2 separate regions of the Homo sapiens genome follow, and region 1 is reported to be linked to region 2. The links are microRNA targets in miRTarBase. Many come from high-throughput screens and were not tested one by one. Region 2 holds a microRNA gene; the other region holds the end of a gene's coding sequence.
What was found. The annotated mature microRNA hsa-miR-8065 reads UGUAGGAACAGUUGAAUUUUGGCU and lies in region 2 at 1,665-1,688, shown strand. An mRNA with a match to its seed (bases 2 to 7 or 8) in the 3' UTR can be bound and repressed. Matches are read on the target gene's strand: a 7mer-m8 pairs with bases 2 to 8, a 7mer-A1 pairs with bases 2 to 7 and ends in A, and an 8mer does both.

Region 1 (3,000 bases), not on the chromosome of region 2:
TCTCTTAATCAGCATGTTTGATGGAGTTATTTGGAAAATGGTTGCTTATACTGACAGCCAGTTGTATTCAGCATGCCTTCTGCTGACCATTACATAAGTGATTCATTTAGGACTAGAACTAGATCATAATAGTGGCAGAGTTCACCCTGTTTCTAAAAGAACGGCCCATCTTCCCTTCAGAAGTGGGTTGATACTGCCACTCAGTGGTCAGCTTCAGGAACTTCAGGATTTCTCCCCCAAAGCCAGGAATAGGCAGGACAATTACGAGAGGGGTGCCCACTAAGATCTAATTTCCCCCCCAGGATGCTCATCAGCTCTTTTTGGTCTGTTTCTTCCCAGGACACAGGGGTCTTCTAAGGCTCAGCATCCTTCCAGGGGCTTTGCAGAACATGGTAAACAGCAGCAGGGGAGAGAAGAGGAAAAAGGTAGTGGTGGCATTCGGAAGACCCGGGAAACAGAGCGGCTCCGGCGGCAGCTGCTGGAGGTGTTTTGGGGTCAGGATCACAAAGTGGACTTCATCCTGCAGCGGGAGCCATACTGCCGGGACATCAACCAACTGTCTGAGGCCCTGCTCAGTCTTAACTTTTGAGCCTCACCTGCTTGAGTGGCTGCCGCCCTGTCAGCTCCAGCCGCCTCCAGCTCAGCCCTTTCTGTGAGAGTCCCTCTGCTGCTCACTCTGATCCAGAGGCACCCTGAGTTGGTGCTTTGGATCAGGGAAGCCACTTTGGGACAGGTCCATAAAGTGAACTGATCTTACCGAGTCAGGACCTCAGCCAGCTCTCAAGAGGTTCTGCTCAGCCTTAACTTCTCAACTTTGCCTTAGCACAGGGTTTCTGTAGGGAGTGGGGGCTGCTAGAGGGGATTAGTTCCGGAGACTGAGACTGTTGGCTCCACCTCCAAGCTGAGCTAGGGTGGAGGGCAGGGTGGGCAGGAAGTGACAGGAAGTTAAGCTGTTCCTCTCCCTGGCTGCTGCTCTGGATGGCCAGAGAACAAGATGCTCCCTTGCTGAGCTCCTGGGAGCGTGGAAGGAGATGCTAGGCCCTGGCACAGTGTTATGTGGACTGGGCCACGATAGGGTGGAGTGAGCTAGTGAAGAAGGCAGAGGGAGACTTGGCTTCTGGTCTCAGCTATGCCTGTTTTGTGACCTTGATTGAGTTGCTTGGGCTTTACTTCTGCCTACAAATCAGGGGTAAAAATACCTGTTGGGAGGAGAAATGAGAACATAGAGGAAAGCCTCTTGGAGGAAAGGTGCTTGGACCAAGTCTCAGGTGTGTCTGCCTGTGGCTGCACAGGCTCTCTAACCGAAACCTCACTTTCAGAGAGATGTGGGTCCTTTGTCTCCAGGATCCACACCCTAGATTTTAACACTGCATTCTCACTATAACGTGCCCTATAATGGCTGCATCCCTTTTGAGCAACCTCCAAAATCTACATTTACACAGTAGGTAAATTAGGGATGACTGCATTATCAAAATACTCTCAGGGTTCCTATAAATGGCAGCTCTCCTGTTGTATTCAGGTGTTGTTTACAGACTAACAAATGTGTTGGCAAATCCCTGGTTAGATGCACTTCCTGGTGTTGAGATGAACACGTCGATTTTTCACCAATCGATGAAGCCATGCTCTGCAATGACAATATTAATGTGATCCGACCCTAACATTTTCTCTATGGAAGACGTATGTTGCATAAAGCAAGGCACACTTCTGCTTTATGTGTGTGTGTATGGGGATGGGAGGACTTAACGGAAGTTGAACCAGTTGGTTCTAGATGAACCAATTATCTGGAAAATGAAAGAACCAGAGTTGGAAGGCACTTGACTGGCCACCAGACCAACTCTGCTGTTACTGACATGCTTTCTTCACCCTGATTCCTAGAGGTCATTGCCCTGGATCTGCTTGAAGTCCTCCTGTGCCAGGGAATTTACTATCTCCAGGGTAGCACATTCCCTGTGTAGACGGTATTAATCAGTACTCCTTACTTTAGTGCAGCCTAAAGTATGCTTTTCTGTTACATCCACCTTTGAGGCTGGTCATACCTCCAGGAACAATACAGAGCCAGTCAACTTCCTGGAATCCAAGACCAGATAAAGAAGTAGGACAGGTGCCCCTGGGTTCTGTTCTGTGTGGGCCTGTGGGGAGTCTCTAGACAAGATCTTTTCCAGGCCCTGACTTCTGCCTCCCTCTGAGTGGCACAGGGAGTTGAATACTGCATGGCGAGTGTAATGATGATGGGGAGGGTCCTTGTGTCCTCACCCCTTCCTTTTTGGTGATTTACACCACTGTACCATACTGACCCAGGCTGGGGGCAGGTGTGTTGGAGACAGGCTGGTCAAAGAGGTGACAATGATTAAGAGATAACCCAGCGGTCCCTGAGAAGAGATTGGTTAGTATGGCCTGAACTGGTGGCTGGGGGAACTGTGTCTGGTCAAGTTATGGCAGATGTCACAGCTTTAGGTAGGTAAAAAGGGTCCTAGATGAAAACCTTGGAGTTTTTTTTTTTCCTGATAGGGTTGTTTATACTTCTTGATTGGTTTCTTGCCATTTTCACTTTCAGTGATGGTGGGTGTGCAGTAGACCAAAAGTGTCTTCTGCCCTTTTGTGCTAAGGGCCCTGGTTGACTGAGTGGCCCCAGTCAGATGAGAGGCAAGTCCTAAGCTTCTTATAGACAGGGATGTTGACTTTGTTCTGCTGCAGCCTGATAAACTGGGACCACTGTGTGGTTAGTAATGCACTTGCCATTTGGTGACACAGACTGAAGGCTATCCTACACCTGGGCCTTACCTCTTCCTCTACTGGCATCCTAATGGCACTCTGACAGCATCCAGGGTGACTACAGGGCCCATTGGAAATGGATCATCATTCTCTCTTCTAGTGTCTATCTTTATCATAACCTGATGTCCCAAACTTGTGACAAGTTCTTTTGGCAACTGAAGGACCAAGAAGGGAAACGGTGATGAGAGAGACTGCTCATTGTAACTTTCAAAACCCCGTCTTTGGGGA
Region 2 (3,258 bases):
TTTGCTGATGTTTAATGACCAAATATGTTTTTTTTAGTTGGTTTCTGATGTTATTTTCTCCATCTATTCCAAAACAGCTGCAGAATGGCAACATTTGACATTTAAGAAAGGGAAAGTGGGAGTGGTGAAGTGATTCCCCTTGGAAGGGTCGCACTTGTATCTAGAGGTTGTCCACAACAGATGGCCAAACCAGTCCCCAAAACGTGACTGTTGGCACTCAGAGGTGCTGCATCTACATTTGAAACAATCTAAAGCAAAGCAAAGAAAACTCAACCGGTCATTGAGTATGTCGGAATTTGCTCTGATGAAGGTGATGAGGTTGATGATGATGATGTTGGTGGCTGATGTTACTGGTCAGGGTCTTAGAGGCTCTCTCCAATCCTCATGCACATTTAAAAGTCTCTCTTCGGGCAGGCGTGGTGGCTTACGCCTGTAATCCCAGCATTTTGGGAAGCCGAGGCAGGTGGATCACGAGGTCAGGAGTTCAAGACCAGCCTGGCCAATATGGCAAAACTCCATCTCTATTAAAAATACAAAAATTAGCCGGGTATGGTGGCGGGTGCTTGTAGTCCCAGCTACTCGGGAGGCTGAGGCAGGAGAATCTCTTGAACCAAGGAGGCGGAGGTTGCAGTGAGCCGAGATCGCACCACTGCACTCCAGCCTGGTGACAGACCGAGACTCCATATTTAAAAAAAAAAAAAAAGTGTCTCTTCTATGTATCCATTACATTTTGACTTCAGTTTTAGGTAATTTATTGCAGACTCCTTTGCCCTTCTGCATTCATGTTTCCCACCTCCTAGAACGGAAGCTACTTGATCATTGCCTTCCCCTACCCTCATTTTTTGTACTTAGTATTGAGTTTTGGCTCTTAGGAGGTGCTTACTGAGTATTTATTCAATGAAGTGTCCAGAGTCTGGTGAAAGGAAGTTGAGCATTGTCTAGATGAGCTTTTCTCTTACAAAGTCAAAATTTGGCCAAAGGCAGCTCCCATTGTAGGATCATTTTCTGGGATGGACACTGGGGTGTTCACTAGGGTCAGGTGAATGATAGAGTGGAGACAGTAGAAATGGCATCCCCAAGTAGGAAAGAAAGGTTAAGCCTCCACCTGTTTGCTCTCTATAAGCTTCCGTCTAAAGATCTCACAGGAGGATTGGATGTCTGAGCTTTCTTTTCCAGTCCTACTTAAGCTAGGAAGCCAAGGAGGGCACAGAGGTACCAGAGGAAGGGCATCTGTGTGTGCCCAGAAGAGGCCTCTTCACAAAGGACACAGGATGCAGGTAAGCTACTTCATATGGTACCTATCACATGTATGCATTCAGTATACTAAAAATAATTATTATTCTGTATTAGAGACGATGTCATGAGACAACTAGCCACAGTCTGATGAACGAGAGTAAGGATGAATATGGGAGTTACACCTGCTGGGTTCCCAACCCACATCAATCTCTGTGTCCCTTGGGCAAGCCCTTTTACCTCTTGTAGCTGTTTCCTGGTCAACGTTATTTGACCCCCTTAAGATGGAGATGCTAATAGCTACCCTGTATGTTGTGGTGAGAATCAAATTAAGCAGATGAAAAGTGCATAGCATAGTGACAGCTCAGTACATGAGAGCCATCATTTTTGTTGTTGTTGTATTTTTCAGCAAGGCAAGGGCTTTGATGTCTTGTAGGAACAGTTGAATTTTGGCTTCATGTAATTACACACAATATCAGCGGTGATTTATCTGGAAATAGCACTCACCTCCAGGCCCTGTCCACGAGCCACCTAGCCCAACTATGTTTATTTGTCTTTTGTTTTGGAGCCTATAAGGGCATATTGGGAAGGTTTAATACAGCCGCATCACTGTGATTTAGTGAGCACTTACTGTCCCGCACATGCTGCTGTGATAACACTTTACAAAGTGGTCATGAATGAGCCTTCCTTCAAACCTGTGAGGTAGGTACTCTTCCATATAAGCTGGGAGAACTGCAGCACACAGAATTTCCGTAACTTTCTCCACTGTGGCTAAGAAAACTGGGCTGGGAACACAACCCAGGTCACCTGATTCCTGGGCTTGCAATCTTAACAACTCCTTTTTTTTTTTTTTTTGAGGTGGAGTCTCACTCTGTCACCTGGGCTGGAATGCAGTGTTATGATCTCAGCTCACTGCATCCTCTACCTCCCAAGTTCAAGTGATTCTCCTGCCTCAGCCTCCTGAGTAGCTGGGACTGTAGGCACCAGTCACCATGCCCGGCTAATTTTTGTATTTTTAATAGAGACGGAATTTCGCCATATTGGCCAGGCTGGTCTCGAACTCCTGACCTCGTGATCCAGCTGCCTCGGCCTCCCAAAGTGCTGGGATTACAGGTCTGAGCCACCACGCCCAGCCAACAACTCTTTTACATCAGTGCAAGTTGGAACATTTTGAAGCTCCCACTCTTCTCCCTGGAACCACACACTTCTGGTTTCTTTTCTCATTCCAAAGCATAGGTGCTCTTTTTGTAAAAAAACTTTCAATAGTTTTAGGGTTACAGGTGGTTTTTCATTACATGGATGAGCTCTTTAGTGGTGATTTCTGAGATTTTGTTGCACTCATCACTGGAGCAACGACTCTCTACCCAATATGTAGTCTTTTAGAAAATATTCACAAACTGTGTATCCGACAAAAGACTGACATCCAGAATCTACAAGGAACTCAAATCAACAAGAATAAAAGAAATAATCCCATCAAAAAGTGGGTAAAGGGCTGGGTGTGGTGGCTCACGCCTGTAATCCCAGCACTTTGGGAGGTCGAGGTGGGTGGCTCACCTGAGGTGGGGAGTTTGAGGTCAGCCTGGCCAACATCGTGAAACTCCGTCTCTTCTAAAAATACAAAAATTAGCCGGGCGTCGTGGTGCATGCCTGTAATCGCAGCTGCTCAGGAGGCTGAGGCAGGAGAATGGCTAGAACCCAGGAGGCGGAGGCCACTGTCCTCCAGCCTGGGCGATAGAGTGAGACTCCGTCTTAAAAAAAAAAAAAAGTAGACAAAGGAAATACATAGACAGTTCTCAAAAGAAGATATACAGACACCCAACAAACATACGAAAAAATGCTCAACATCCCTAATTATCACGATGCCCATTTGAAGGCCAATTGTGAGCTGTTAGCAAGCCCACCTTGAGTGTAATGGTGTTTCCTCTACTGCCATCTAGAGGACACAGACTCAAATAAGCGTCATTAGTTGCAGTTTCTGAGGTCCAACTTCCAAATGATCCTTACCCTTTACCTTTTATAGCCACT

Region 1: miRTarBase lists KHNYN as a target of hsa-miR-8065. Seed matches in the 3' UTR shown: 7mer-A1 at 2,763-2,769.

The regions. Positions count from the first base shown.
Region 1 is chr14:24,436,697-24,439,696 of GRCh38, forward strand. It overlaps KHNYN (KH and NYN domain containing), which reads left to right. Exons shown (of 8, transcript NM_015299.3): 8 at 340-3,000. The coding sequence ends at 589. Among named protein-coding and RNA genes, the nearest start is that of SDR39U1, 4.6 kb to the right of the region's middle.
Region 2 is chr16:5,630,869-5,634,126 of GRCh38, forward strand. It overlaps MIR8065 (microRNA 8065), which reads left to right and starts at 1,599; the gene lies at 1,599-1,698. It also overlaps a transcript of RBFOX1 not described here.